3 linked regions of the Homo sapiens genome follow. The protein of the gene in region 2 interacts with the protein of the main gene of each other region in a biochemical or structural test. Each region holds a gene or a part of one and is shown on either strand. Other genes may lie near its edges.

Region 1 (10,565 bases), on a different chromosome or scaffold from region 2:
ATCATTCAGTATTTATCCTGAAACTGGCTTATTTCACTTAGCAAATGACCTCAAGATTCATCCATGTTGTAACGTGTCAGAATTTCTTTCCTTTTTAAGGCTGAATAATATTCCATTACATGTACATACCATATTTGTTTATGCATTCACCTGCTGATGGACATTTGGGTTGCTTCCATTTTTTGGCTATTATGAATAATACTCTAAGAACATGGGTGTACAAATACTTCTTGTTTGCAATTCTTTTGGGTATATACCCTGAAGTAGAATTGCTGGATCATATGGTAAGGCCTAAACATTTTTTACTTTCATAAAATAAATAGAATACGCTGTCACACTTTAAACAGGAAGACAAACTATTTCCTTTAGCATATAAATGGATTGATCATGCAAAAACAAGCAAAACACCAGCTACCAAAGATGGCAACGATCCCCTTACACTGTAGATCTCATGATAAAAGATAGCAGTGTGGTAAGATAATCACATAGTTATAATCCATGTTTGGCTTTTTTTTCCAGTTTTTTCCTGCAATAAACTACTTACTTTATTTCTTTCGGTATCGTCTGTATCCTCTCTAAAAGTTCCTGTCCTTAGAATTCCACTTTCTGGTTGTCCTTTAATCTTAAATGGCTGTAAAATTATTAAAATTACAGAAGTGAAAGAAAACTTTAATTCTCCTCCCAACATAAAGCTACTAGCTAACACAACCGAATCTATGAGAATGAAAATGTAAAAGGAGAAAAAAAAGGCCTCTGAAAATTTTATTATATTTTACTGTCACATTCAAAATACTTAAAAAACTAAAGAACTCTGATGAATCAGTGAAGAAAAAAAAAAGATGAAAATCAAAGTGGACTGTGAAGCACTGGTTCACACTACATGGCCAAGTATAAAATGCTGATCATTAATGTATATTCACCATGACCTAATTTGAACATTATTCTTTTATTTAAATACTATTACGATTTTGGTTATCTTGAAAGGAGTTGTGCTTCAAAAAATTTGAAGTATTCAAGAGAAAGAAGAAATTAAGATACAGACCAATAGTAAAAAATGCAAAAATCTATATTCATATCTTCTTATAACATCACAGATTCTTTTTTTTTTTTTGGAGACCGAGTCTCGCTCTGTCACCCAGGCTGGAGTGCAGTGGCACGATCTTGGCTCACTGCAACCTCTGCCTCATGGGTTCAAGTGATTCTCCTGCTTCAGCCTCCCAAGCAGCTGGGACTACAGGCGCCCGCCACCACACCTGGCTAATTTTTTATATTTTTAGTGGAGACAGGGTTTTACCGTGTTAGCCAGGATCATCTTGATCTCCTGACCAAGTGATCCGCTCGTCTAGGCCTCCCAAAGTGCTGGGATTATAGGCGTGGGCCAACGCGCCCGGCCCGTAGATTCTTTTTAAAAACTCATTTTTGTTTTATATCTTATTTTAAAATAACTCTACTAAAAACTTTTTAAAATTAGTGATAATTTTAACAAAATTTATTCTAGAATAAATTACATATTTCTCCTACTTTTAAAAGGAGCACACAAAGAATGCAATCTTAGATGTGTAGGAATATTTGGCACCTATATACTAAATGACTCCACAAATATGAATGATTTAAGTTCTAAAGACTGCATGCCTCTAGTATAGCAAGATGGAAAAGAAGTGGCTTTGGAATCTCACTGTCTATGTGATCCTAGGCAAATACTTAACCTCTAAACTTCAGTTTCACTTGTAAATTAAATACCTTATGGGGTTATCATTAGGGGTAAATAAGACAATGCAGTGAAAATACTTGGCATATAGTAGCTACTCAATGAATAATACTTAAATTGTATCTTGGAGTGCACATGTTTTGCTCCTCCTGTGAATAAAATTAGAGAGTTTTAGTACATGGGCTTCATATCCCCAATTTGGGGTGTTTAGAAGGTTTTTGGATGGAAGCTATCTTTTTTAATAGCAGAGGTTACCAGATAAGTGTTCCCTGGATAAGAGCAGCTTGACTATGAATTAATTTTGGTAACATGCCTGAATTGTGTTTGAGAAGTATAGAAATTGACATTCTGTAAAGATGGTATCCCGCCTTCCATTAGAAGTCATTTCCACACTACTAAAAATGTTTTTTCCATTTATACATATGTAAAAAGGACCATAACTGTTCTTGGTATTATAAACATATACTTGGTGTTCAAAAGGAAAAGGCATTGTTAATGACATAATGAAGAAAAAAAGAAAAGCATAGCATTATTAGAGATTGAAAAAGAATAACAAAAAAAGTCCCCTAAAATTACGGCTATCAATTTTGGGTGTGTAGCCAAGGGCAAAATTAATTGGGTTATTTGCCAATATTATTTAAATAGATAAAGCAAGAAACAAAATGACACCGATCTGACCAAAAAATCACTATATGCAAAGATAAATGTTAGGCCATTTAGATGTCACTGATTTTGGATATATTCTAAACAGATATAAATTCTATCATACAAATATTAGCATCTAGTTTCCCCATACTGAGAAGGAGATTATATTTCACTCTAGTCTTCCCATGATCATACATCAAACATAAAAATGAAGAATGTAGCTATTTATCTCAATTATTTGAAATATATTGCATTTTATAGATGTAATATACAAAAAGCAATTTCATTCCCAACCAATCATTTCATAAATGTATGGCACTGGCCTCAAAGGAGAATAGATGAGCAAATGTGGATAGATCAGTACATTCTATCACCCCTGAAAAGACTATTTGAAATGCCTGCCCTTTTATGGAATGCCACTGGTGTTTTCACATTTTCATATACATTTTCTTTCACTTCGTTGGCAATTTGTACTGTTTCTGCTTACCTTGCCTGAACCTGAATCCCCTGTCACAGATGTATGGGGCACATCTCCTGTTGACTTTTTCTGTATTTCTGGGGTTGGACACCTTTTCCCCCTATCTTCTACAGATTTCTTGGCATCAGAAGTTTCATGTTCACTTTTACTTTGTCTTTTTACTCCTGTTATTTCTTTGCCCCTCTTTGCTGAGGTTTCTTTATCTTCTTTCTTGGCCTGTTCACTTTCTTTCTTCTCCATTTCTTCTTTTGCTTTTTGTTGCTTCTCTGTAATTTCATTTTCTTCAGCTTCTTGTTTCTTTTTGGCTTTTTGTTCTTGTTCTTCCTTCCTCAGTTTCTCTTTCTGTTCCTCTTGCTGCCTTTCCCGAAGTTCTTTTTCTTGTTTGTTTTTTTCCATTAGAAGAGCAGTTTCTGCATGAATACGAGCCTTTTCTTCATCTGTTAACATGAGAGTTGGAGAAAAAACTACTGGCTTGGTGGAACGATCAGGAATAACTTTTCCACTCTGAGGAGATTGTTGCTCATGGTTTGTACTTTCAGATTTTATTCTATGCTCTTCAGGCAATTTGACTGCTGGTTTTTTAGTACGATCAATCTAGAGCAACAAAACCAGAGCAAAACATTTTTGTCAAAAATCAGGAAATAACCTCAGTTCTTGAGATCAAGTTGTGATAAAAGAAGTGTCACTTTGTGGAGACAACATCTATCAGCACATCTATTTGTTAATTACTCAGTGTCAAGATTTCTCATAAAACAGAACTTGAATGGTAGATATTCAAACATCACTGGAACTTACATCCTCTTGATTCAACACTTTCAATTCTTCCTGAGTGTTTTGTATACAAAAGAGTTAAAAATGTCTTTATTCTAAAACATAAAACCTAGACCTGGGCATACTTAGACTTAAGTTCCACTTCCAGGTATCCAAATGCCTACCCAATATTTCCATTTGAGTGTCAACACATGTATCTCAAACCCCATACAGCCAAAACGGATTCACGATTCCCCCCACCCCGACAAACATGGTCCTAATCTCATGGATGTAACCACTCTCACTCTCCCAATAGTTGCACAAATCAAAAACCTGAGTCCCATGATATGTTCTTCCCATATCCTTCTGCACGCTGTTAATTTTCCTCCTATATCTGTCCCTCCATCTCTTCTACCACAGGCTAAGACCATGTCAACCTCCTCTCTCACCAGGACTACAGCATAGCTTTCAACTAGTTGCCCATCTCTTCTCTTGCCCCCGCCCCCCAATCTGTTTCTCCACATTATAGCCAGAGGACTCATTTTAAAACAAATTTGATTTGCTACCCACTATGCTCTCAGTACACCTAAAATCTTTACCATAGTCTGTAATGCCCTGTATGGTCTTACATCTGCCTACCTCTCCAGTCATATGGCTGTGTATACCAGCTATACTTGCCTTAAAAAAAAAATTATTCCAAGATGCCATGCTCCTTCCCAACTTAGGTCTATCAGCTGTTCATCTAGATAATGCCCACATTAGGTCTTGGCTTACACATCTCTCCCTCTGAAAAGACTTCCCTGGTTCCTAGAACTAGCCAAGTCCCCTGATACATGCTCTTATAATACTTTATTCTTCTCTACCGGAATTCTGATCAAATAACTATAATTACTTATTTAAAATTTTTCTTCCCTCCTAGAATATAAGCTCTAAAAGGATAAAGACTGTGCCTGGCACAGTTAGTAACTATGTTACTGAGGGAACAAATGCAATCTTCCCTAAAAACTTTTACATGAGGTAAAATACTAACTAGTTTCCTTCAGGTTGTGTAATAAACTACCTAAGTTCCTGATTTAATGAGTTAAATGTTTATTACCTCAATTTAACAGCATGTTAACACTAGAGAAGTGACCCTAACATCATTTCTTGAGAATACTGTGTACTGAAAGAAAAATAAAAACTTATAAGAACATGTGCCAATAACAATCTACATAGTGTTCTTACAAAACGAATTTATGTTTTTCTACTAGAAAATAAAAGAAGTTGCCAGGCGCAGTGACTCACGCCTGTAATACCAGCACTTTGGGAGGCCGAGCCGGATAGATCACTTGAGGCCAGGAGTTCGAGACCAGCCTGGGCAACATGGCAAAACCCCATCTCTACAAAAAAAATACAAAAATTAGCTGGGCGTGGTGGCATGTGCCTATAATCCCAGCTACTCAGGAGGCTGAGGTGGGAGGATTGCTTGAACCCAGGAAGTCGAGGCTGCAGTGAGCTGTGATCACGCCACTGCACTCCAGCCTGGGTGAGAGAGTGAGACCGTTTTCAAAAAAAAAAGAAAAGAAAAAGAAAACGAGGTTAGTGTAGAAAAAATAATTTTTTTCCTGTTCACTTCTCTTTCTGCCTCTTAAAAAAAATCCTTTGTCTTTTTTTTTGCATGTATTTGAGAATAAAGTAGGAAGAACCACTATGGGGATGAGGTTAACAATAAGAGGTGGAACAGAAACAAAAATAAATGTTGTTTCCATTTACATTTTGGTGGCTTGATCTATTTTTCCCTAATTTTAAAAGTATAGTTATGATCATGTTACTCTCAAGTTTAAAATTCTTTAATGGTTCCTTGTGCCTACAGGACAAAATTCAAATTTGATCCAAGTCTCTCTTGATGACTCTTGTCCATCCTTCTAATCTTATCTACTATCATAACTTCCTCTCTCCAACAGAGACTAGCGCCCACATATGCCAAAACTGTTCACTGGCCCCAGAGCATGCCCTATGCCTTTGGTCATAGAATTTTCTACTTGTTTCTTCTATCCTCCAATCCTACTCTTAAAGCCCAGATAAAATACTGTCTCCTCCATGAAGACGTCCTTGATCTTCTCAGCTAGAATATTCTCCTTGCTCTGTGCTCCAGTGCCTTGTAGAGCAATTATGATATTCTGCCTTATGCTGTGGCTGATTTTATACAGATCTCTCCTTCCAAACATCAGAAGAACCCATCTCTTGTATATACAAACTTTCATGCTGTCTTATTTTTATTTTTATTTTTTTTTGAGACAGAGTCTCACTCTCACCCAGGCTGGAGTGCAGTGGCCTGATCTCGGCTCACTACAACTCTGCTTCCTGGGTTCATGTGATTCTCCTGCCTCAGCCTCCTGAGTAGCTGGGACTGCAGGCACGCACCACCACGCCTGGCTAATTTTGGTATTTTCAGTAGAGATGGGGTTTCACCATGTTGACCAGGCTGGTCTGGAACTCCTGACCTCAGGTGACCCACCTGCCTCCGCCTCCTAAAGTGTTGGGATTACAGGCACGAGCCATGGCACCCAGCCCTCATGCTGTTTTTTATATAGAAGATCTTCAAAATATGTCTGAAAATTGTACGTATCTCATAAAGTTATGTTGGGACACAAAAGGATTAGCGTTTAAATAGATTAAGTTGAAAGGAAATGCAATAACATAGAGAAGCTCTTTTTAGACTTTCCTAAATTCACCCTTTAAGAAAAGTTGTTTAATCACATCTATTTAGTCTGCAATTTATTCTGCAATACTAAAAGACCTTAAAAAAATGAAGAAATGAACCACTTCAGTTTATAACAAAAAATTACCAGATTTTCTATTCAATACCTGCTCCACAAATCAAACGTCATCCACTTTAAATGTGAAATACTGTTTTAAATATATCTGGGGAAAAAATTAAAAATGAATGCTAAAAAATGTTATTGGGAAATGCATGGAGGGGGAACATTAGTTAACCTTTCTTTAAATAAAGCCAAATGAAGGATATAAAAACTAAAATTTTTTTATTTGTAATGTCTTGGTTATTTAAAAACTTTTACATGATTATTGTTAAACATGCCTGTTATTTGCGTGTCAAATTCTAAGGAAATGAAACTAAAGCACTGTTTTAAAACCAAAATACTGACATCACATACCTATCATATGTAAGCCAAGCTATTTATGAAAATAATATGGGTCAAATTATAATACAAAAAATCCCAAAAGGGCTATTCTAATTCACTGTGATAATGCAATCTTTCATTGGCATTGTTTGTAGCAAATGGATCGCCAACTGGCTTGGAAACCCCTTAATTATCTACTCTAATATAGGCGTGGCGGTAATGCTGAATTATGATGAAAAATTTTTAAACAAAAAATTTATCAAAACATACAGACTGTTCTCATCGATACTTTTTTCTAAGATGTTAAAGGTTATATATTAAACTTCGTTTCTATACTATGTATTTAATTCTTTTTTTTTTTTTTGAGACAGAGTCTTGCTGTCACCCAGGCTGGGGTGCAGTGGTGCAATCTCGACTCACTGCAACCTCCGCTTCCTGGGTTCAGACAATTCTCATGCCTCAGCCTCCCAAACAGCTGGATTTATAGGCACCCACCACCATGCCCAGCTAATTTTTGTATTATTAGTAGAGAGGGGGGTTTCACCATGTTGGCCAGGTTGGTCTCAAACTCCTGACCTCAGGTGATCTGCCCCTCTCAGCCTCCCAAAGTGCTGGGATTACAGGCGTGAGGCACTGTGCCCAGCTATACTATATATTTAATATTAAAACAAAAGCGAGAATAATGTTAAAATCAAGAACATACCTGTGGAACATTCTTTATACTAGGCACTGGCTGAATTATGGGTGAAACATCAGATTTAGAAGCAGCAACTGGTTCAACTGGAGTTGATATATTCAGTGGTCCCATTCTCTCATTTTGACCACTTATCAATTCTATATTTTCATCTACTTCTATAGATGCAGGTGGCGTCTGGGCAGCAGGTTTAGAAGGAATTGATTCTTCCAATGAGGGATAAGTAAAATCCACTAAAATTCCAAAAATAAAAATGTTTTTTAGAATAGCAAACCCCATACACAGTACTTACATTTCTCATGCGTGTTAATGCAGTAATTAAATGTAAACTAAGTGAAAAAACAATTACAACAGTCTTAAAGAAAATGTGAACTTCCAGGCTTATATTTTTATGCCTGAAAACAAACTGCTCTCTAATAGGACAAATACACACACAACCAAGAATGTTACCGGGAAAACAATTTTAAACCATATTTTACCAAAGCAATTTTAAACAAAAATTTTCACATACATACATGAGATAGACACCTCTTCATTCTGGCGTCGTGGGGGTGGAGTGACCTTAGCATTTGTTGTATACTGGGGATAACAAAGGAGCCAGTTTTCATAGCCTCCCTCTAAAACCAAAGGCTCATTGCGCAGGACAGTTTTACTTTCCCACTATAAATAAGGAAATCATATTTTAAATAGGGCAGCAATCTTTCAACAGCTAAAAACACAACAAATCTAAATTTTAAAGTTGTTCCCTTAAGGACAAAATTTATCTTCTAAATAATGACAAAATGAGAACTGAATTCAAAATTCAACATTAAATGAAATGGTTATATAGGTGAGGTTTTAAAAACCATACAAATAATCAATGATCTTAGAAGAAAAATTAGAAAATAAATTACTAAATATAAAACAAAAATGACCCATAACCTCACCACCCCAATACCACTTTACATTCTGGAGTTTACTCTTATAGAGAGTTTTCAATAAAACCTTTATGATGTTGCTTTTCTATGAACATCTTTCATCACTATAGAGCTATATCATCATTTGCAATGCTAGGTAATATTCGACTACTGGTTGACTGATTGACAAGGTCTCACTCTATCACCCAAGTTGGAATGCAACGGCATAATCACGACTCACTGCAGCCTTGACCTCTTGGGCTCTATTGATCCTCCCACCTCAGCCTTCCCAGTAGCTGGGACTTACAAGCACGCGCCAACACGGCCAGCTAATTTTTGTACTTTTCGTGAGCTGGGGTTTCGCCATGTTGCCCAGGCTGGTCTCGAACTCCTGGGCTTAAGTGATCGACCTGGCTCAGCCCAAAGTGCTGGGATTTATAGGCGTGAGCCGCTGCACATGGCCTATTCTACTTTATACACAGACCCCAAAACTGAGTCAATCGTTTGAACATTTGGGTTTTTTCCCCATTTAATTATAAGCAATGCTGAAATAAACACAAAAGATCCTTATACATGCACATACCTAGTCACCTCCTTAAGGAAAACTCCCAGAAAGGGAGTTGCTTAAGCTAAGGTACACGAACATTTTAAGGTTTTCAATATATTGCTAATCTTAGAAATGATCACTTAAAAATATATATAAATATATTGGTCGGGCACGGTGGCTCATGCCTGTAATCCCAGCACTTTGGAAGGCCGAGGCGGGAGGATCACCTGAGGTCAGGAGTTCGAGACCAGCCTGACCAACATGGTGAAACCCCGTCTCTACTAAACATACAAAAATTAGCCAGGCGTGGTGGCAGGCGCCTATAATCCCAGCTACTTGGGAGGCTGAGGCAAGAGAATCGCTTGAACCCGAGAGGCGGAGGTTGCAGTGAGCCAAGATAGCGCCACTGCACTCCAGCCTGGGGGATAAGAGTGAGACTTCATCTCGAAAAATAAATAAGTAAATAAATATATATATATGTGTGTGTGTACATATATGTGTGTGTATATATACATGTATATATATGTATTTCTTTAGGATAATTACCTAGGAGTAGAATTGCTGGTTTAATATGATGCCCAGTTGCCCTTCAGAAAGGCTATACCAATTTATACACTTAACCAACAGGATATGAGAATGCCCATTATACATCTTTATAATTTTTACAAAACTGATGAACATAAAATGGTATCTTGTTTTAATAAGCATTTCTTTATTGGTGAAGTTGGACATTTTTTCATTTATTTACTATGGATTTATATTGTTCTATGACTTAACTATTTAATAATTGTATCCTTTGCCCCTTTTTCTATAGTTATTTGCAATTTTTTTAGTAAACAGTGAATGTACTCTGAATATTAGGGAAAACAGGTCTTTGTCATATATATTGCAAACATTTTTCCTGATTTTTACTTTATGTTTTTGTTTTTTAAACATAGTTAAATGTCTTTTCTTTTTGAGATGGACTTTTGTTCTTTTGCCCAGGCTGGAGTGAAGTGGTGCGATCTCGGCTCATTGCAACCTCTGCCCACTGGGTTCCAGCAATTCTCCTGCCTCAGCCTCCTCAGTACCTGGGATCACAGGCGCCCGCCATCATGCCCGGCAAATTTTTGTAATTTTAGTAGAGATGGGGTTTCGCCATGTTGGCCAGGCTGGTCTCCAACTTCTGACCTCAAGTGATCCACCTGCCTCAGCCTCCCAAAGTGCTGGGATCACAGGTGTGAGCCACCGCGGCCAGCCATAAACACAGTCTTCATTTTCCTTTATGACATCTTGATTTGACATCAAGGTACTAAAAAATACCAATGCTTTCTCCTAATAGTTCGCTGTTTCAATCTATACATTTATATCGTCTATTCATTTGAGATGTAGCTTGGTCTAAGAAATAAGGTAGGGATCCATTCTCTTTTATTTACTGGCTGGGCAGTTGTCCCCAAACCATTCATTTCAATCCATCTTTTCTTCATTGATTTATGTCACCTTTATCATACACTAATCATTCACATATCTTAGTTTGAACTTTATGAAACTGCCAAACTGCCATTTGTAGGTCAATGCCAGTTGAATACTGGCAGTTTCATATAATTGTCCCATACTTAGGTATATTTCTGGGTTCCCTATGTCATAGCATGAATTGTTCTAAGGCTTTTAAGACCGACTTTCTCAACGGCAATCAGCTGACCCTCCTACCAGCAGAATGAGTTTTCTTCTCACCACATGCTCACC
Region 2 (10,607 bases):
ACCTGGCCAGTGGTTTAACCTTTCAACCCCATTTCTTCTGCTAGACACTGTGAGTGATAAAGACCTTTTTTTTTTTTTTTCTTTTTTGGAGACAGGGTCTCTGTCATCCTCTGACAAGCTGGAGATTGCAGTGGTGCAATCACAGCTCACTGAAGTAAAGACCTTTTATATATTGCAGGAATTGCTGTAAGGGAAAAACTAATAGGAGGCTAAGGTGGAAGTATCACTTGAGCCCAGAAGTTGGAGACCAGCCTGGGCAACATAGTGAGACAATTTGAAAAAATCAGCTGGGGCTGGTGGCATGTGCCTGTAATCCAAGTTACTCAGGAGCCTGAGGCAGGAGGATCACTTGAGCCCAGGAGTTACGATTGTGCCCCTGTACTCCAGCCTGGGCAACAGAGAGAGACCCTGTAATTAATAAACAAGCAAATAAATTTGTATACAAGTACTATAAGCCATCCCCTCCTGCCACCTTTCCTATTCCCACAGTCTTGTTATCCTCCAGTTCACCCCAGATCAGAATCTCAAAACCATCTTTGATGCCCTCTTCCTTTCCCTTCACACCAATGTCACCAAATCCTTCCCACCTGCCCTGGCACGTTCTCTGCATCCTGCCCTTCCTTTCTCTTTCCATCTTATTGCAGCCTCATGCCCTCCTTGTCATAGAGGGCCTCACACCTGGACTGTTGTGACAGCCCCCTGTGCCTGTGTCTTTCAGTCCTACTCTTTTTATTTTTATTTATTTTTTGAGACGGAGTCTTGCTCTGTCACCCAGGCTGGAGTGCAGTGGCGCAATCTCAGCTCACTGCAACCTCTGCCTCCCGGGTTCAAGAGATTCTTCTGCCTCTGCCTCCCGAGTAGCTGGAACTACAGGCACGCGCCACCACACCCAGCTAATTTTTGTATTTTTAGTAGAGACGGGGTTTCACCATATTGGCCAGGTTGGTCTCGAACTCCTGACCTTGTGATCCACCTGCCTTGGCCTCCCAAAGTGCTGGGATTACAGGCGTGAGCCACCACACACAGCCCCCACTCTTTTTAAAATTCAGATGTCTCTTCCTGAAAGATTGCTTTCTTCATGTCATTCCCCTGCCCCAATAAATTCAGATTTTCCCTTATATCTGAAGGCCAAAGTCCAAACCTTATAGTCTCACATTTAAGCTTTATGGCTATTTGGCTCTATTTTATTTACCCAAACTTATCTGGTCTTAGCCTAAACCTGTAATATTAACAGGACTGGCTCTCTATTGTCTCCTAAACAACCATGCTTAAGCCCTAACATCCATAACTCATCCTCTCATTCACTGTGGACTCTCCCAATTTTAAGGGGGTAGGGTGGGAAGGAGCAGACATGGACATACGTGTAACGTGCAATTACAGTACAGTGGGATAGTATGGTGCCATCTGCCCCCTGGGAATAGCCTGCCACTCCTGTCCATCCTTCAAGACCATGCTCAGAGCACATGTCCCTGGTGCGGCTTTCCTGGATGAGTTTATCACTTTCTGAACACCTGTGGCACTCACTCTCTGCACTCCTATAAATACATTATTCTCTTTTCTTTTTTTTTTTGAGACGGAGTCTCGCTCTGTCACCCAGGCTGGAGTGCAATGGCGTGATCTCGGCTCACTGCAACCTCTGTCTCCTGGGTTCAAGCAATTCTCCTACCTCAGCCTCCCGAGTAGCTGGGATTATAGGCGCCTGCCACCATGCCCAGATAATTTTTGCATTTTTCGTAGAGATGGGGTTTCACCACGTTGGCCAGGCTGGTCGCGAACTCCTGACCTCAGGTGATCCGCCGGCCTCAGCCTCCCAAAGTGTTGGGATTACAGGCGTGAGCCACCGCGTCCAGCCATAAATGGTTCTCAAATTTGAGGCACAAACTACGGGGCCCCACTGTCAGAGATCCTGTCTCTAGAGGTCAGGGATGGGGCCAGGGAATTTACATTTTTAGCTGACTCCAATGAGGGTTTGCCGACCTCGCTTTGAGTATATCTGCATGGATGACCTTGTACTCGTCACTTCCGCCCTTTCACTTCCACTGTAACTCTATGTGGGCAGAAAACATGTCTTCTTGTCTCTTTGTGGATCAGCCCCCAGGCACCACCAATTAATTGCCTAGCACAGAGAAAGTGCTCCCCAAATTTTACTTTTTCTTGTTCAGAATACAATGCCATCCAAGTTCTCATTTGGCACTTACAACAGCCGCGCCAGGTAGGAAGAAAGGGCGTCCTTCTTACAGACAGATGGGGAGAGAGTCCAAGCCACCAGAGAGCAGAGACTGGCTGATGCAGGCTTAGTTAGAAATCATAGTGCAAGCCACACAGTTGCTTTAGTTGTGGGCTCCCTGGCACTAGCTTCCTGGACTGGTGTTGAACTTTAAGCCCACTTTCCTCTTCTAGAAAGGAACGAGGAAGGAACTGACATTTATTGAGCAATTACTCTCTGCTAAGTACTGGGCTGCAGGATGTATGCATTATTTCAGGGGATCAGGGAAGTACAGCAATGGATACCCCGTTTTTGTTTTTGTTTTTATTTTTTCTGAGACAGAGTTTTGCTCTTGTTGCCCAGGCTGGAGGGCAATGGTGCGATCTTGTCTCACTGCAACCTCCGCCTCCCAGGTTCAAGCGATTCTCCTGCCTCAGCCTCCTGAGTAGCTGGGATTACAGGTGCATGCCACCAGGCCCGGCGAATTATTTTTGTATTTTTAGTAGAAACAGGGTTTTGCTATGTTAGCCAAGCTGGTCTCGAACTCCTGACCTCAGGTGATCTGCCCACCTTGGCCCCCCAAAGTGCTGGGATTACAGGATACCCCAGTTTTATACATGTAAAACGTGGAGGCCCAGGACATCCGAGTTTTTATGCCTCATTGCATAGAATTGAAGAGGCAGAACAGGCCAGACAAGGATAAAGTGACTTCATATTTGTTGGAGGTCAGTTTTATATGCTGGTGTATTGTTCTGGGTGAAAGCACCTAGAACAATTAACCCTCACAACTTAATCCTCACAATTACCTTGCAAAGGAGGTCTCATTTCCTACTCATTTTAAAGATATGACAGTAGTTTCAGAGAGGTTATGCAATTTGCCCAAGGCCACACAGCTGAGAAGAGGAAAAGCTGTGGGTGGTAGAGCTGGGATTCGTGGACTGTCTGACCTCAAAGCTTGTGTGGGTTCTGCAGCCCCGTCCTGCATCGTGCCATGGGGTCCATGCACAGTGTGCACAGCATGTCAGTCGCAGAAACAGGAGTAGGTCCCAGGTCTCTGCATACCTGCTGCTCCCTGACGATATCATCTAGCGTTCTGTTTGCTCAGGGCCTGGATTTGGCTTCTGTCCTGCCCTCCCAAATTCCCACTGGAGACTACTGCTGGGGAAGTTATGGTGCACAGGAAAGAGGATGAGAAAGTGGGGAAGACCAGGCTTTCGACTAGCTGAGAGGTAGGGCTGGGGAGCACGCACCTAGGAAGGCTGGCTTCTGTAAAGTAATTGGGAGGTGGGGGTTTGTGTTTCTCCCAGATCCAGCTGTCTGAGAAGTTCAGGAAAGTGTGGCTGTCCCCTCCGCCCACCCCAAACACACTCCCACCTTCACAGACCCTCCCAAGGACAGACTTCCCAGACACAGATCCGGAGGTGGCTCACAGATGTGCAGGATCAGATTCAAGGTGACACGCACCAGCATACACAGAACCACAGGGCTGCCCGGGCCCGGACTGCCCCACAGAGGCGGCAGATGCACACAGAGGTCAGCCACAGCACCCCACATGGAGGGCTGCTCACCCACAGAGGTGCAGAGGGTGCCACCTCCACCAGCCACCTTGAAGGTACCTTGGAGATTGTCAGGAAGGATGGGGAGGGCATAACAGTGTTTTCTCTGTAACTCCCCTCTCCCCCGCCATGGAAGGAGTCCCACTCTTAAAAGGGAGCTCTGGCTCCTTTCCTACCATTTGTTCTTTCACCAGGCTCAGTTCAGTTCCCCTCTGGCCTGGGGAGGTGTGGGGTGGGGGAGGGGCCGGAGTGTAGACCGCGAGAGGGAGAAGGGGAGGAGGAGGGGACGGCAGGAGCCTGTCCAGGGCTTCCGGGCGGAGTGCAGTCAGGGGGGCCTCGACAACCTCACTTTGCCGTACCAGTGGCAGCCCAGATGGTGGGAGCAAGGTGCTTATTCAACTGCTGCCAGGATTCCTTGGTCCTGGAGGTACTGGGAACAATGGTGGGAATCAGAGGAGGGGACAAGGTTGGGTGGCCAACCTCTAGAGTGGTGGGATTTGGGAGACTCGGACTGGGCCACTGTCAGAGGGGGCTGACACCTGTTATAGTGCCCCTGTGGCGGACCCTTCCTCCAGGTCAGGGTCCCCAGCTGATGTGTCTGTCTTGCCTCAAATCCTTCCAGACGGCGTATGTGTCAGATGAGGAGCAAGGGGAACTAGGCAGCCAGGGGAGACGAGGAGGGAATGGGGAGCTTGGGAACACTTCTGCCAACAACCACGTGACCCCCGGGGAATGGCTGGGGAGGGGTCCCTCCTGCTGTCCCCACCAGCCCATTTGAGCAGGGGCTAGCTTGAGGCATCCCCATCCTGTCTCCCCTCTGCTCATGCAGGCGGAGGGCTAAGGGCTGGCCTGACCACCTTACCGTCTGCGGGGGGCTGCCCACGGTCATCTCCACGTAGTAGCCCTGCCCCGACTTGCCCCTCAGGTTGTCCACCATCTCCACAAAGCTGCCCCTCCGGCCGGGCTCCTCGGGCTCTTCGTCGGTCTCCCGGGGCAGCCGCAGCCCCAGGGGGGCGCCCCCCAGGCCGCTGCGCAGGGGCAGCCGGATGCCGTGCTGGGTGCCGTGGGCAGGCAGCACTCCCGCGCCCATCCACAGCAGGAGCCAGGGCAGGGCTTGGGCCATGGTGGGCCCCGGCCTTCGGGCCCTCTGGGCTCGCACTGGCCCACGTCCGTCCCTGGCGCCTGCCCCCAAGTCTGGGTGGTGCTGGTGGCTTCTCAGGAGAGGGAGCTTGGGGGCATCAGGACGCCAGGGCCTGCAGGGCCCTGGGCCAGCCCCCGGGTCCGGGCTGTGGAGAGCGGTCAGGGGAGATCCGCAGAGCACGGGAGCAGGGGAGAGGCTGGGATCCGGAGCCCGCTACATCGGCACGGCGGCGGCCAGCCTGGGCAGCGGGCGCGGGCTCCCGGCGGGGCTGGGAGGGGCGGGCATGGCGGGCCGGTGGCGGCTTCCCTGGTCCCCCCGGCGGGCGGCGGCGCGGGCAGGGGCAAGGGCTCCGGGCTCCTGCGGCTGCGTTGGCTGCTCAGGCCACCATAATCCAGCTCGCGGCTCGCAGCTCCCGGGCGGGCTGGGGAGGCGGAAAGACTTGTGGCGGCGGCTGTCAAAGCCAAAAGGTTTTCGCTTTTCCCTGGGATCGCTGGGAAGTGTAGTCTTCCCATGGCAGGCAATCCGGCTTCCGGGGCTGGAGAGGGGTCTGGGATGCCCTCTGCCGAGGTGGAGTCCGCCCTGCAAGGCCCTGGCGGGAAGGGCCAGACGGATGGAGAGGGGCACACCTCCCGTCTGTCAGTCTTTCTTTCAGCATGGAAGGAGCACCCACTGTATGCCAGGCACACTGCCAGGCGCTGGAGATACAGAGAGAAATAAACGGTGATTCTACACGGGACAGTTAAGTGATTCCTGCCGCGGTGGGGTTTCACACTATACGATGTGGCATTAAGGAGTAGGGATTTGGAGGGACATCTAGGGGATCTGGGAAGACTCAGTGGGAGAAGGTGGTATTTAATTTGAGCGTTTAAAAATGGGTAGGATTTTCACGAGCAGAGATTGAGGGAGCAGGATGAAAGGGGAGGAAGAGTTTTTCCAGGCTGCAAACCAGCGGAGCAGGGTCCAAAAGGGGAAAGTGCAGTTGTCTTATTTTCTCCTGCGCCTGCGATCTGCGGGCAGGTAAGAGCCAGTGGGTCTTCTCCCATCTGAACCTGTTTGTGCCCTTGAGGCTCTACTTGAATCCTTATGGCTCCTCTGATTTTCTGCACCATCAGCCAGACTGAGGAGAAATGGCTGTTGATAGCTTTAAAGTGTTAACACTCCGAAAAGTATCTCTATATTAACTGGTAAGAGCTTAAAGCCTTGAACCAAAAGCGTTAGAGTTCTAATAGCTTAAAGGAGAAAAGCCGGTATGGTTTTAACAATATATTGTTTATCAAATGTGGAAAGCCATTGATAAAATTCAGCAGTTACTCTGATTTAATTTTTTTAAAAAATGAAAGGGAATCTTCATTTTTCTTTTGAAAAGGAGACTTGCTCTGTCACCCAGGCTGGAGTGCAGTGGCATGGTCTCAAGTCTGCAACCTCCGCCTCCCGGGTTCAAGCAGTTCTCATGCCTCAGCCTCTGAGTAGCTGGGATTACAAGCATGCGCCACCATACCCAGCTAATTTTTGTATTTTTAGTAGAGATGGGATTTCACCATGTTGGCCAGGCTGGTCTCGAACTCCTGGCCTCAAGTGATCCGCCCACGTCGGCCTCCCAAAATGCTGGGATTATAGGCATGGACCACTGTACCCAGCCAGGAAACTTTTTAAACAAGATAACGACAACAACAACAAATGTAGTAATAACAGGCTACGTTACTCCCATTAAAGGCAGGCTTTGGAAAGGAAAGATCATTATCTCTACTCTTTTTTTTTTTTTTTTTGAGAAGGCGTCTCGCTTTGTCGCCCAGGCTGGAGTGCAGTGGTGGGATCTCAGCTCACTGCAAGCTCTGCCTCCCGGGTTCAGGCTATTCTCCTGCCTCAGCCTCCCGAATAGCTGGGACTACAGGCGCCTGCAACCACGCCCCGCTAATTTTTTGTATTTTTAGTAGAGACGGGGTTTCACCGTGTTAGCCAAGATGGTCTCGATCTCCTGACCTCGTGATCCTCCCGCCTCGGCCTCCCAAAGTGCTGGGATTACAGGCGTGAGCCACCGCGCCCGGCCGATCATTATCTCTACTCTTATCCTACACGGTTCAGACCGGTCTGATTGACTCAAAAGACAAGAAAATGGAAAAAGTGTTATATATGTTGGAAAGCAAAGGAATCATTAGTTGCAGATTATATGATATGGATAGAAAACCCTAATCAATAAGATGATTAGACACAAGTTAAAAAAATCGAAATCAAAATAGAGAAATGTATCTATGGGAATTGTAGATATGATAGAGATGGCATTCGTATTAGAGGAAAATGGACGCATTATTCAAAAACTGTTGTTGGGACGTCTGGCAGCCCATTTGGAAGGAAAAAAAACCAAATCCAATTTCATTCCTCTGAAAATAAACTCCAGATAGATTAAAGAATTTAACATTAAAATAAAACTACAGGAAAAATAGAATATTTTCATGATCTTATATTGAAGAAGACCTCCCTAACAAACCCTAGAAGGTAAACAAACCCAAAAACTGGATGGATTTGATGACTTAAATATTTAAAACTTCTGTAGAATCAGAAGTATTCCAATACCACCAGTGTTCTAATTCTGGTTCAATTAGTAACTGGGAGAGCCCACTCTGGTTACTTACTTTTTGAGTCCTTTTTTTTTTTTTTGAAACAGTCTCACTTTATCACCCAGGCTGGAGTGCAGTGGCTTCATCTCAGCTCACTGCAACCTCCTCCTCCTGGGTTCAAGCGATTCTTGTGCCTCAGCCTCCTGAGTAGCTGGGATTACAAGCGCACACCACCATGCCTGGCTAATTTTTTTTTTTTTTGAGACGGAGTCTCCCTCTGTCACCCAGGCTGGAATGCAGTGGCATGATCTCAGCTCACTGAAACCTCTGCCTCCTCAAGCGATTCTCCTGCCTCAGCCTCCCAAGTAGCTGGGACTACGGGCACGCGCCAGCACGCCCAGCTAATTTTTGTATTTTTAGTGGAGACGGGAATTCACCATGTTAGCCAGGCTGGTCTCTAACTCCTTACCTCAAGTTATCTGCCTGCCTCAGCCTCCCAAAGTGATGAGATTACAGGCGTGAGCCAACTTGCCTGGCCCCTTTTTGAGACTTGATTTTATCATTTGTAAAATGGAGATAATGATATTAATAGTTCAAACCTCAAAAGGTAAGAATTCGATGAGACAATCCATGTAAAGCATTTAGAATGGTGTCCAGCATATTGTAAGTGCTCAATAAAGGTCAGCTATTAGGATTATTACTGTTGCAACTACTGAGAAAACTGACATTTACAAAGTTAAAAGATCAGTCACAGATTAAGAAACAACATTTATCACACAATAGAGACAAAGGGCTAATGTTTATAATGTGCAAAGAGCTTCTACAAATCAATATAAATCCCAAACAACCTGATAGAAAAATGAACAAAGGGTAAGGGGAAAGAGTGAGGAAAAACAACAACAAAACACAAAAAAGAAAAGAAAAAGAAAAATGAACAAAGAATGTGAACAGTTAATTCACAGAGGAAATTCAAATGGATGATAAACATAAAAAACCTTGAAAAAAGCTTAACTTCGTTAATAGTTGAAAGAACACAAAGTAAAACAGTAGATTCTTTGTTCCTTTTTCTTTCTTTCGTCTCCTCTCAGATTGGTAACATTTGGTATTGGTGAAGGTATTGTTTGGACTGTAAATTATTCCATTTTTGGAGAGTAATTTGCAATGCCTATTAATATGTTAAAAATGCAAACTCTTTGGGCAATGGCATTTCTAGGACCCTTTCCAACAAAAACAACAATATTTCAGCAGTGTGTACTATGGCAAAACCTTGGATTCAAAACAAATGAAGCTGGGTGTGATAGTTCACGCCTGTAATCCAAGCCACTTGGGAGTCTGAGGTGGGAGGATCGCTTGTGGCCAGGAGTTCAAGACCAGCCTGGAGACAGAGCAAGACCCCATCTCTTTAAGCAAAACCAAAAATAATCATCAAGCCTGTAATCCTAGCACTTTGGGAGGCCGAGGTGGGTGGATCACCTGAGGTCAGGAGTTTGAGACCAGCCTGGCCAACATGGTGAAATCCTGTCTCTACTAAAAATACAAAAAAATTAGCCAGGCATGGTGGTGGGTGCCCATAATCACAGCTACTTGGGAGGCTGAGGCAGGAGAATCGCTTGAACCCGGGAGGTGGAGGTTGCAGTGAGCCGAGATTGCACCACTGCACTCCAGCCTGGGTGACAGAGCAAGACTGTCTCAAAAAAAAAAATTTAGCTAGGTGTGATGGCACATGCCTGTAATCCCAGCTACTTGGGAGGTTGAGGCAGGAGAATCGCTTGAACCTGGGAGATAGAGGTTGCAGTGAGCCGAGATTGCGCCACTGCCCTCCAGTCGGGTGACAGTGAGAATCGGTCTCAAAAAAAAAAAAAAAATTAAATAGGGAACAAGACATTTGTTCAATGAAATCCTAAGTAACCATTAAAAACAATGGGATAGCTTCTTATAAACTGGCCTTCCAGGCTGGAGTGCAGTGGCACAGTCTTGGCTCACTAAAACCTCCACCTCCCAGGTTCAAGCAATTCTCTGCCTCAGCCTCCTGAGTAGCTGGGATTACAGGCGTGTGCCACCATGTCTGGCTAATTTTTGTATTTTTAGTAGAGATGGGGTTTTGCCATGTTGGCCAGCCTGGCTAATTTTTGTGTTTTTAGTAGAGATGGGGTTTCACCACGTTGGGCAATTCTCTGCCTCAGCCTCCTGAGTAGCTGGGATTACAGGCGTGTGCCACCATGTCTGGCTAATTTTTGTATTTTTAGTAGAGATGGGGTTTTGCCATGTTGGCCAGCCTGGCTAATTTTTGTGTTTTTAGTAGAGATGGGGTTTCACCACGTTGGCCAGACTGGTCTCGAACTCCTGACCTCGTGATCCACCTGCCTCGGCCTCCCAAAGTGCTGGGATTACAGGTGTGAGCCACCGCGCCCGGCCTGTTTATGACAAGTTAAAGAAAGCATGTCAGGGGCCTGACGTGGTGGCTCACACCTGGAATCCCAGCACTTTGGGAGGCCAAGGCGCGTGAATCAGGAGTTCAGGGCCAACCTGGCCAAGATGGTGAAACCCTGTCTCTACTAAAAATACAAAAATTAGCTGGGCGTGGTGGCGGATGCCTGGAATCCCAGTTACTCGGGAGGCTGAGGCAGAGAATTGTTTGAACCCGGGAGGCGGAGGTTGCAGTGAGCCAAGATCATGCCAATGCACTGTAGCCTGGGTGACAGAGTGAGACTACGTATCAAAAAAAAAAAAAAAGCACATGTTAGAACAATAACATTATGATCTCATTTCTGTAAAAATTAAAAAGAATGGGCTGTGCATATATGCATAAATATGTAGGTATATACATTTACATCTGCATAAGCATAAAAAAATATGGAAGATAGCACCCACAGTGTCAACAGTGGTTTCCTTTGAAGTGTAGGGTTTAATTTCTTCCTTAGTTTGCTCATTCATTCATTCAGTAAATGTACACTGAGTGCCTACTACACGCTAAGCACTATTTTAGGCACTGAGGATACAATGATATGTAAAATCCCTGTCCTCATGGAGCTTACACTCTAATGCAGGAAGACAGACAGTAAAGAAATAAAATTATAGTATCTTGGATGGTGATATGTGCTATAGAGAAAAATAAAATAGAGAAAGGAGATGGGAGGGCGGTTTGCAGT
Region 3 (10,565 bases), on a different chromosome or scaffold from region 2:
CAGCAACAACAGCTGTGGTGTTCATCCTTTGGCCAACACCCAATCCAATCCTGTCTCTTACCCTGTCTCACAGGCCCTGGGGGTTGGTGGAAACAGGGCAGGGGTTGGGGTCTGGATTCTGAGCTGTAGGAATAGGAAATGAGGGGAGATGCTCAGGTTACCTGGTTCCGTACAGACTCATTTTTCTGAGAAACAGGATCTGTGTGCATCCAAAGCTCTAATGAAGTTCTTAAGGCCACCTGGGGGGAGGATGAAGAAACAACACTTAGAATCAGTCTCCTGTTCTGGGCCATGCCTAGGGGATAGAAGTCAAGGGAAGAGGCGGTGGTTCCTGCAGTTAAGACCGCAGAACAACAAAGGAGGAAGATTTAATTAAAAAGGAAGGGGCTGGGGGACATGCCACATACCTGTCCCAGCTCCACAAATGAGTCAACATTCTCTAACTGCACGGGAAACTTGCCCTTCTCCATATCGTAGACCATCCTCGAGCTGCCAATGTAGTCAAAAGTTTCCTGAGAGATGGAGGTAGGTGGGAGGGGGAACAGAGATTCCAAAGGGTTAGGAGAGCCTCGAAGGCGGCCAGATCATCAAAGCTGTAGGTAAGACGACTATCTCAGGTCACCTCAACTGCTAGTCAGCTTACAGTCATGTGACTTTCGGCTTCTCTTGGCCCCACCTCCCAGCTGTGACTATCCCTCATATGTATTACAAGACTTCTGAAGCCCAGAAATGGGGAAAGTAGCCTTAGTAAAGGTCTAAGATGAACATCAGCTATTATGTGTCTGATTCTTAACGGTCCCCCACCTCCAGTGACTCAGCCACAGATGCTGTTCCCTTATTCTGCTGTGGTCCTAGTGATGAGAGTCAGGAGCCTAACGGCTCCTGGATGGAGATAGCAGTAAAGGAGTCCAGAGAATAAAAGTAAAAGGCCGCCTCCAATATATCTTATCAGTGGGGGAAAGAGGGGGCTGGTTACATACCAATTCAGGGTGTAAAAGCTTCCTAAAAAGAAGGAATCTAAGCTTCCTAAAATGGAGGAATCTAAAGGGGAGACACATGTAGACACATCCAGAAGCTCTGTGCTGGTTAACAACTTAGGTCAAGTGCTGAGGTCTTCTCCAACCAGTAGCCACTCTCATCTTTACTATCCTCTTTCTTCCCTGCCATTGCACCCCAGCCAAAGAGCCCTTACCCCTTGAAAGAAGACAAACATGACATTGCGGGGCAGGGTGGTCACATCAGGTGCCTTTTGCAAAGCTTCAGCAGCAGCCAGCTGGGTGACAAAGGAAGCCACTGCGCTTTCAGCCCCTGGGGCCACATTCCAGAAAAAGGAACGACTATCCAGCTAGGTACAACAGAAGAAAAGTCAGGGGATATATACTTTAAAACTGGCCCCAAACCTCCTTTCTTGCTCCAGTCAAGAGAATATACCTGTCCTGTGGCAATGGAGACAACCCAGGAGTCCCACAGCCCAGATTCCTCCCCATTTGAGGCTTCCCAATTTAGCAACTTTGAAATCTGATATGCTAGAGCGGGGCCTACCAGCTCTTTTTGTGCCAGCCCTGCCCATCCTGATCAGAAGCCAACACTCACCCGGGTGGCAGCAACCACAACCCTGTCGTCAGGCTTTAATGTCCCAGTTGTATTTATAGGCTTTAGCATGCTCCACACATTGTAATCAGACAGGGGGTCACAGACGATTTCTAAGCAGGACACAAACAATGAGAGATCAACAAGGCTAAAGGAGAAGGTAGCTATAAAGGCAACATTGGAAATCTCTGACCAGTGCCCCACGGACTCTAAGTCGTTTTCTCTACTTCCAACAGTCCGAGGTTGGCTTCTCTGCCACTATCCACTTTAGGAACAAGCTGCCTAAATTTTTCAGAATTGTTTCTAGTTCTCCCATGCAGAGCTCCTTCATGGTGTCTACTCCTTCCCTATTACAGTCTCTCTAACATTCCCTGGCCTGGTTCCACTCTCCCTCTGCCCCTTATTCCATTACCCTCATGGTTCGGATCTGCCCTACCTGGGTTGATGCTGAAGGTGCTTTGGATGGAGCTGCGCCGCATGCAGGTGGCAGTGCTGATGACAGCATGCATGTGTGAAAAGAGCTGCATGGCACATAGTGGGAAGGTTGGTGCTGAGCCATTCTGACTCAGGTTGTGATCTTGATAGCACTGAAAGGGGAGATGGACCCCACTGAGACAGCTAGTTTGTGGAGGCCCTCCCTTACATCCCAGAAGGAGGAGGGCCCAGTTCCATCCTTTTGGGATGGAGCCACACCCTTTTCGGAGACATTTATCCCTGAGCTATAGTTATCCTAGAACCACCATAGGATCTATAAGGTCAAAGAAAAAAACTCATCAAGAGTTACAAAGGGTTGCAGACTCAGTGGTTTAGCTGGAGATGAAACTATCCCATTCCAGATGGCCTGGCCCAATTTGAAGCTTCAGCCACTGAAAAGATTCAGTGTGGTCTGATACAAAGAGCACCAAACTAGAGATAGGAAATCAGATATGACACAGCTTGGAGATCAACTCACCATACAACTTTGGACAAATCTCTTAACTACTCTATGAGTCAAAATGGAAATACTAGACCAGAATTAAGGCATATTAGAGCTAAAAAGAAGCTCAGAAATTACCAAATTGAATTTCTCAATCTCTAATCCAATGCTTTTTTTTTTAACGATACTAGTGGTTCTTAACCTGGGCTGTGTACCTTGTTTCATATTACTCTTTCAGATATTCTTTATATTTTCTTCTAGTCTAAAAGGCTTTAATGCTGTAATATCAGGTAGGAGCAAAATGTGGGGAAAGAATGTGAGAAGAACTAACGTCTTGGTTCTTTTTGGAGCAACCGTCTTTCAGCAGGTGTACCAGAAGAATGAGCCACCCTCCAAATAGGAGAGCCTATAAAATAATCCTTTTTTTTTTTTTTTTTTTGTGACACAGGGCCTTGCTCTGTCACCCAGGCTGGAGTGCAATGGTGCCATCTCAGCTCACTGAAACCTCTGCCTCCCGGCCTCAAGTGATCCTCCTGTCTCAGCCTCCCGGGTGGCTGGGACTACGTGCACACACCACCACACCTGGCTAGAAAAATAATCTTCTTTCTAACTGGAATTGCTAGGAGCTGGCAGTGTCATTACCTGCTTGATGACTTTGGTTTCATTTTCATCTTCAAGAAGAAAGATGGGGAAACTAAAGTCTTCATAAGCCAAACCATTGCCCAGCGAATTCCACTGTATTTCTCTGCAGTGAGCAAACTCTGGCCCATAGGAATTGGAGTAAACACCTGAAGGGAAGGATGGGGAATAGGGGGACTGGTTACTGGGACACCAAGTACTTAGGAACCAGGTGACGGCAGAAGAATCTTTCAGTTGGGACTAAGAGTTCAAAAGGAGGTGGTGACTCAAAGAAGTAGGCATGAAGTCTATTACCATCCACACTAAAATAGAAAGACAATGGTATCAGGGAGTCTTAGGCTGTAAGATTAGGGATGTGAACACGTGACAAAAAGAGATAATGCCAGGTAAGGCAAAGGAAGGGGAAGCAGGAGAGGGAAGGGATGAGCAGCAAAGACAAATAAACACTACCCCCTGTTTGGGAGTCAGTTACTGACACTACACACAGACACAAACACATATACATCCCTCACAAAGACGTAAGACCGAAGCAACAGTGAGCCTTAGGTGACAGTAGGCTCTCCTGATCCTTTGGGACACTTACCAAACCCATCATTTGGGCACTGTACACTAGGAGAGAAGCCTGAGGCAGGACTGGGCTTGGTCAAGGACACTGCAAGACCAGCAATTCGGCTGGTTCTCCCTTTCAGCTTCTCCATTAAATCCCTGGAATAGGAAAGGAATTCCATGAAGGAACACAGGAAGGTATCAGACAGCCTGACATTCTGCCTGCAGGATGGAAACAAATGGGGAACTAGGGGAATCAAACTGTTGACTTATTTCTTCCCTTTCAGTCTCTAAATTCTGAGTCTGGACAATGATCTGCTCTAAAAAGTAGAGCTTTAGTGAGTAAGGACCCCAGGGAGGGAGGGGAGGGATGCCCAGGGTTACTCAGGGACAGGTAGGTGAAATTTAGCCCTAAGCTCAAGATCATTTCTTTTGATGGTACACCTTTCCTTCTGAGGACCACCCTGCCCTCTCCCCTGACCAGACCAGGGCAGCCAAGGGAAGTTTTCACTAATAAGTGTGAGGACTGTTCACTGAAACTTTCCCTCTATGGATGTTTTCCCAGCAGATACATCTAGTTCTTACCTGGTAAAATGCTTGCTCTCCAGCAGAACCATGTAAGGGGGGTTGGGGCCATCAGTCAATACCCACTGTAGGTCCTCCTCTTTCTCTACTACGTGGATAACCCCTGTGTCTCCACTAATTGAAGCTGCCAGGACAGAATGAGTCAAATTAAAGCTCCCATAGTTAACAATTCTGACTTTGCCTCACTGATTCTGCGTATCTTTTATCCCCTAAAGATGTCACAACATATTTGGGTGAATACAGGCACCTCTAGATTTGAACTGAAAAGCTGTTGCCCCAGCTCCATCTGAAGGTTATCAGGAGGGAATGGAATATAAAAGAGCACAAGAGGACTCATTATATGCCAGAAAGGTTCTGTGAACTTCATTTTTTTGCCCTCTGCCCTCAACCTTATTTAGCCATATACATAAGATTCTACAACAATAGACACCAAAGTTTTCAAACCTATATTTTCTCTAGGAAATGCCACTAAATCTCTAGCTCAGGGTTTTAGCTTTGAATCTTCCTTTGTAAAAACACATGCATACATGCCCTTGGCCTCAGGAGCTTTCCTGGATCGTCATTCCTTTTGCCCTTTTTGGGAATGACTTTACTTGCTTCTGGCCGGTTTTAGATGAGGTTAGTCAAGAACTCTGAGGTTTCTAAAACAGAGCTTCCCAATTGATAAGCCTCGAATGGATCAGAGATGTGCTCTCATTGGTTCTCCTCATTCCAGGAAACCTAGGGTTTCCAAAGTCACCTCCAGCCAGGAGCCTACTTATCATTTACCCCAGGATGCCCTGAAAATATCACCCATTTCTCTATGTGCCAGGATGCTATACAAATAACATTTTCTATGTGTCTCATGACATGATAAAGATTGGGAAGCACTGTATTAGAGGATGGATGACCCAGAGTCCAGAATACTTTGAATTCTACATAATTCAAGGCATTAGGTAATACTCCTTAAGTCCCCAGTGATCTGTGTGGAGATATCCTAGGGTCTCCCTGTGAGTCTTCTCCCTACAGAAAATTGGATATGTTATTCATCAATTATTTTAGACCAGTAGTTCTCAGCCCTGGCTGTATATCAGCATCACTTTAAATGCCCACTCAGCCTCCCAAAGTGCTAGGGTTACAGGAGTGAGCCACCATGCCCGGCCCTTGCCACAGCATTTAAAACATGGGAAAAGGAACAGATAGTGTGGCAACTAAAACATATATAACTTCGGCCGGGCACAGTGGCTCATGCCTGTAATCCCAGTACTTTGGGAGGCCGAAGTGGGTGGGTGGATCACTTGAGGTCAGGAGTTTGAGACCAGCCTGGCCAACATGGCGAAACCCCATCTCTACTAAAAATACAAAAATTAGCCAAGTGTGATGGTGCACACCTGTAATGCTAGCTACTCAGAAGGCTGAGGCAGGAGAATTGCTTGAACCTGGGAGGCGGAGGCTGCAGTGAGCTGAGATTGTGCCACAGCACTCCAGCCTGGGTGACATAGTGAGACTCTGACACACACACACACACACCCCAAAACTTCAACTCCAGCGAGGACAGGAAGACAAACTATGATACTGGACTGAAAAAAACCTGGATTCTAATCTGGGTTCCAACTAGTAATGGTGTAGTCTTAAGTAACTTGCTTATTTTCTCTGCGCCTTCAATGAGGTTTTCTACCTCTATTCATCTCATACTGTGGGGACAGACGAAAGAAGGAAGAAAGGATAGAAGGAGGGAGGGAGGGAAAAGAAACCTATTTAAAGCCCCCTTTGAGAACTTTAAAGCGTCTAAGAGAAGCAGAGTATTATAATCAGAAATCAAATCTGGGTATCACTTTTTTCTCCTTAGTTTTATCATGTTAGCTACACTAATTAAAAAGGGCGGAGCCTGCTCAGAAAAGACAGATATGACGAAGTAAGATTTGGAAATAAGTAGGTTGAAAAGGAACCAAGATCTTAATGAGGAAGTGGCCACAGTCCCGCTTACCCCCTCTTGTTTCTCTGTACTGGCACGTGGCTTTACCTCTAGAGGCTTTGCTTCCTACAGAGCTGTTTTAAGAACATAGAGTAGAATGACTTATTCCCAAAGGAGTTTTCTTAGAGCCTAGTTACAAGAGGTTGGGGTCCTGGCCTTCTGTACTTTATAGTGAGGTTCCAGCAAGACCAGCAGTCTGATCTCAGCCCACCCTGGACCTAGCTCTCTTCTACCTACAAACCAGTTCAGAAACTAAGTCCAGAGGGCTGGGCATGGTGGCTCATGCCTGTAATCCCAGCACTTTGGGAGGCCAAGGCGGGCAGATCACGAGGTCAGGGGTTCGAGACCAGCCTGGCCAACATGGTGAAGCCCCGCCTCTACTAAAGATACAAAAAATTAGCTGGGCACGGTGGCACGCGCCTGTAATCCCAGCTATTCAAGAAGCTGAGACAGGAGAATTGCTTTAACCTGGGAGGAGGAAGTTGCAGTGAGCTGAGATTGTGCCATTGCACTCCAGCCTGGGCGAGAGGGCGAGACTGCATCTCAAAAAAAAAAAAAAGAAACTAAGTACAACAAAAACTTTATTTGGGGCTGTTTGGAACCAGTCAACCTACTCCCAGTGCTTTGTATAGCAGGGACATGGGACAATTAACAGATACTATAGCTCAGGGAAAGATGGCTAAAAAAGTAGTAACTGCTTCCACGAACAAGTCCTTCACTTCTCAGTGTCCCAGTTTTCTCTTATCAAATGGGAAGAAGGCTTCAGGAAATTATACAGCACTTTTGAGACCACCCTATTTACCTAGCGTCATCAATAAACAACTATTAAGAGGTATTTGACTTTCAGCTTTATGCAAGTACTCCAACCATTATTCCAGGGGTAAACTGAAATTCAGAGGTGATCAATTTGATGATGAAGAAGCCAGTATCAGACCCCAAGTTTCCTGCTTATCTGCAAAACTACATTCTGACAGAGCTATTGTCCATGGGAAACAAAATCTGAAGACAGCAGGTTAGCCTTTAGATTACTACTTTTCCTGCCCTATGATTTTGATAGTTTTTAAAGCCACAGTGTCATGGAACCTTCTTTTGGAACACACAAAGTGTGAAAATAAACGGCCTGTCAGTTGAATTTAAGGAAAAAAAGTTTTAAAAAAGGATAAATAGAATGCTTCACTAATTCCTCTTGCAATTATTCAGCATTTTCTTTTTTTTTTTTTTTTTTTTTTTCAGACAGTGTCTCACTCTGTCACCTATACTGGAGTATGGTGGCACAATCTCAGCTCACTGCAACCTCCGCCTCCTGGGCTCAAGGGATTCTTCTGCTTCCGCCTCCCGAGAAGCTAGGACTACAGGCATGCCATAGCAGCCAGCCGGCTAATTTTTGTATTTTTAGTAGAGATGGGGGGGTTTCACCATGCTGGCAGATTGGTCTCAAACTCCTGACCTCAAGTGATCCACCCGCCTTGACCTCCTGAAGTGCTGGGATTACAGGCATGTGCCACTGCGCCCAGCCTATTTGGCATTTTCAGTGCCTTCTCTTCAGATAGTTCATTGCCTTTAGCCCATTTTGGTTCCAAAAAGTTCAGAGTGCAAGTGATAACTGGACACCATAGAATATGAGACTTTTTTCTCCTTAAAAAACAGTATAATAGGGTGGTTAAGAGTGCTGGCTCGGCTGGGTGCGGTGGCTCACGCCTGTAATCCCAGCATTTTGGGAGGCCAAGGTGGGTGGATCACTTGAGGTCAAGAGTTCGAGACCAGCCTGGCCAACATGGTGAAACACCATCTCTACTAAAAATACAAAAATTAGCTGGGCATGGTGGCAGGTGCATGTAATCCCAGCTACTCAAGAGGCTGAGGCAGGAGAATCACTTGAACCTAGAAGGCAGAGGTCACCGTGAGCCGAGATCGTGCCATTGCACTCCAGCCTGGGGGACAAGAGTGAAACTCCGTGTCAAAAAAAAAAGGTCTCTCAGCTTAGTGCTCGGGCCACCAGATCCTGGCATCATCACTTATTACCAGTATGATCTTGGGAAAGTTACTCAACTTCTTTAAGTTTTAGTTTCATCATTTATAAAGTGACAATAACAGTAAGACCTATTTTGTGGGGTTGTGGTTGGGGTTGTATGAGATGCACATGTAAAAAGCTTGGTATGCAGCATTTACTAAATGTTAGTTCTTATTAATTATCTTGCCTAGCTTGACAGACGGTTATCTGTAACTGCCTACATACAGTCCAATATAAGTGTCAAATCTCCTAAGCAGGACATGGATGTTACTTAGTATCTAGGGCACAGACAAATATCAATGTCCACAAACATGAATCCATCTCAACTCACACTGGCAGCCAATCTGATGAGTGGCGTTGAGCAGGCGAACACAGGGAGCTGTTTTATTTAAGGGGATATATATCTTCCTCTCCACTGAGTTTCCCCTGCACAAACCTGATCGGAAGATAAAAAGTGTTAGAAAAATTTGAGAGACACAGGTACTAGCTTCTATCGTGTCATTAACCTGAAGTATGGCTTGGGTAAATCATTTAATATCATACTTTCTAAAATGAGATTAAAGTCCATTCTTCTGATTTCTTGGGCACACACTTATCGTAACAGATACATGTTCTACATGGCACCCAGCTATGTGCCTCAAAGGGTTATTACAAAGTCCATGTAGCGCCATTGACAGTGACACTAAAAGAGAGAAAACTTGGTCAAAGGAAAGGTGTTTGACCTTAGATTTGCCAGATTCTGGTTGCACAGGTGATCACACTTCTGCTTGTATATCCTGTATGTATATTACTAATTGGTTAATACACAGGTGCTGGGCTAAGAAAACTTTCTGAGGCATTTTTCCAAGAGTGTGAACAGAATTGAGAGAAACCTTATGACATACACGGGTCAGTTAATTTAACATCAGCAGGTCATTTGTGTGCCCACAGTGTGGGGCAGCTGTAGTTTCTCCTTTGAGGATCCTTAAAAACAATGTGAATTGGGGGAAGGCACAGTCATAGTTATATACAGGCATTTGCATTTTAGGGCTTGACCAACTAAAAAGCCATGTATCAGTAAATGAACGCGTATCAGCAAACACTTAAGTACATTATAAATGCCAAAAGTTCCTTGAATTGTTACTTCAGGGTCTTCACAGTTAAGAGTACCCATATCCTACCTTATTCTTGCTTTACTGATTAAAAAAAAAAAAAAAAAAAAAACCTGAGGCAAGGCAGGGGGACACAGACTTAGGATGTAATCAACAGAGGAAGAAATAAGAAATCCACCTTTTAAGCGCCGCACAGCACCCACAGAACAAGATTGCTTTCGTCTCAAAAAGTCTAAACGCGAGGAAGAAAGCTAACTTTCACACCTGTTCCTTTCGACTGTGGGGTGGGTGGCTGGGGTTGTGGGAAAAACGAGACATCTGGACAAAGTGGGAGAGGGTCAGGCTCGAAGTCCAGGAAGAGGCCTAGAGAAGGGAGTGAAGCGACACGACGTGCTGCGGGGGAGAAGGGACCTTCAGGTCCAGGCAAAGGGGGAACTTCTGTCGTGGGAACGAAAAAGAAAGAGGATTTACAGGGTGGGGGGACAGAGGGGCAGCAGGAACCAGAAGGGAGACAGTGGCGGTCGCGGCGGGGCCGATCCGAGAGTTCCCCTTAGAGAACGGAGCTCACGGGCGGGGAGGCCTCACCTGCTAGTAGGACGCAGAAAGACAGAAGGCGAAGGAGACCCCGACTTCCCGGGTCAGCCCCAGAGCCACCCCCTGCCGTAGCCATCTTGCCTCTCTGCTGAGCGGAAGCCCCCGTTCGGCTCCTGTCTGTTAGCGGCCTCTCTAGGCTACCACTGACACCGTCTCTGTGGCCCGGAGCCTAAGAGACCGGAAGTTCGTGTTTCCAGGCGCTTCCGGAAACCGCGGGAGAGGGTCGCTGACGTGGAGGCGTCCGAAGGGCAGCAGGGTGTGTCGGGGCTCGGATTAAGACATCGGAGTCGGAGACCTGAGAGATGTTAACCAAATTCGAGACCAAGAGCGCGCGGGTCAAAGGTAGTGGAGAATAAAAGGGGGAACATGGAGGTTGGATGTCAGGAGCGGCGCTGACACCGGGGAAGAGAAAATGGGTAGAGGTGTTGGTCGAAATGGGCCCACCAGACGGACCCGGAGGAAGACGGAGGGTGGGAGAGAGGTTGGGCCTGGCTAGCGGTTCTCCAGTCCCCTCTTCTTTGGTGTGTCCTTGGGCTTCGATTTACCTATAAAGTGGCTCCCACACTGCAGGGGATTCCTTAGACCCCCTCCCTATTCTTTCTTCCCCCTTTCTCTCTTGGCTGTGCTCCCGATTTGTGT

The links.
Region 1: of the proteins of BACE1 (region 2) and USP8, one has a biochemical effect on the other in vitro, tested with the Homo sapiens proteins (one study listed by BioGRID).
Region 3: the proteins of BACE1 (region 2) and NCSTN form a complex in vitro, tested with the Homo sapiens proteins (one study listed by BioGRID).

What each region holds. Positions count from the first base shown.
Region 1 is NC_000015.10:50,474,341-50,484,905, reverse strand, and holds part of USP8 (ubiquitin carboxyl-terminal hydrolase 8), read right to left. Parts: intron 8,058-10,565; coding exon 7,913-8,057; intron 7,631-7,912; coding exon 7,407-7,630; intron 3,426-7,406; coding exon 2,841-3,425; intron 632-2,840; coding exon 545-631; intron 1-544. UniProt on the Homo sapiens protein: Hydrolase that can remove conjugated ubiquitin from proteins and therefore plays an important regulatory role at the level of protein turnover by preventing degradation. Converts both 'Lys-48' an 'Lys-63'-linked ubiquitin chains.
Region 2 is NC_000011.10:117,310,911-117,321,517, forward strand, and holds the start of BACE1 (beta-secretase 1 isoform A preproprotein), read right to left. Parts: upstream 5,347-10,607; 5' UTR 4,886-5,346; coding exon 4,625-4,885; intron 1-4,624. UniProt on the Homo sapiens protein: Responsible for the proteolytic processing of the amyloid precursor protein (APP).
Region 3 is NC_000001.11:160,342,834-160,353,398, reverse strand, and holds the start of NCSTN (nicastrin isoform 1 precursor), read right to left. Parts: upstream 10,017-10,565; 5' UTR 10,003-10,016; coding exon 9,918-10,002; intron 8,924-9,917; exon of another isoform or gene 8,810-8,923; coding exon of another isoform or gene 8,785-8,809; intron 8,678-8,784; coding exon 8,573-8,677; intron 4,401-8,572; coding exon 4,277-4,400; intron 3,851-4,276; coding exon 3,729-3,850; intron 3,295-3,728; coding exon 3,149-3,294; intron 2,178-3,148; coding exon 2,027-2,177; intron 1,704-2,026; coding exon 1,594-1,703; intron 1,346-1,593; coding exon 1,193-1,345; intron 513-1,192; coding exon 408-512; intron 240-407; coding exon 162-239; intron 77-161; coding exon of another isoform or gene 68-76; exon of another isoform or gene 1-67. Other genes in the region: COPA (coatomer subunit alpha), read left to right, coding at 10,229-10,268. UniProt on the Homo sapiens protein: Essential subunit of the gamma-secretase complex, an endoprotease complex that catalyzes the intramembrane cleavage of integral membrane proteins such as Notch receptors and APP (amyloid-beta precursor protein).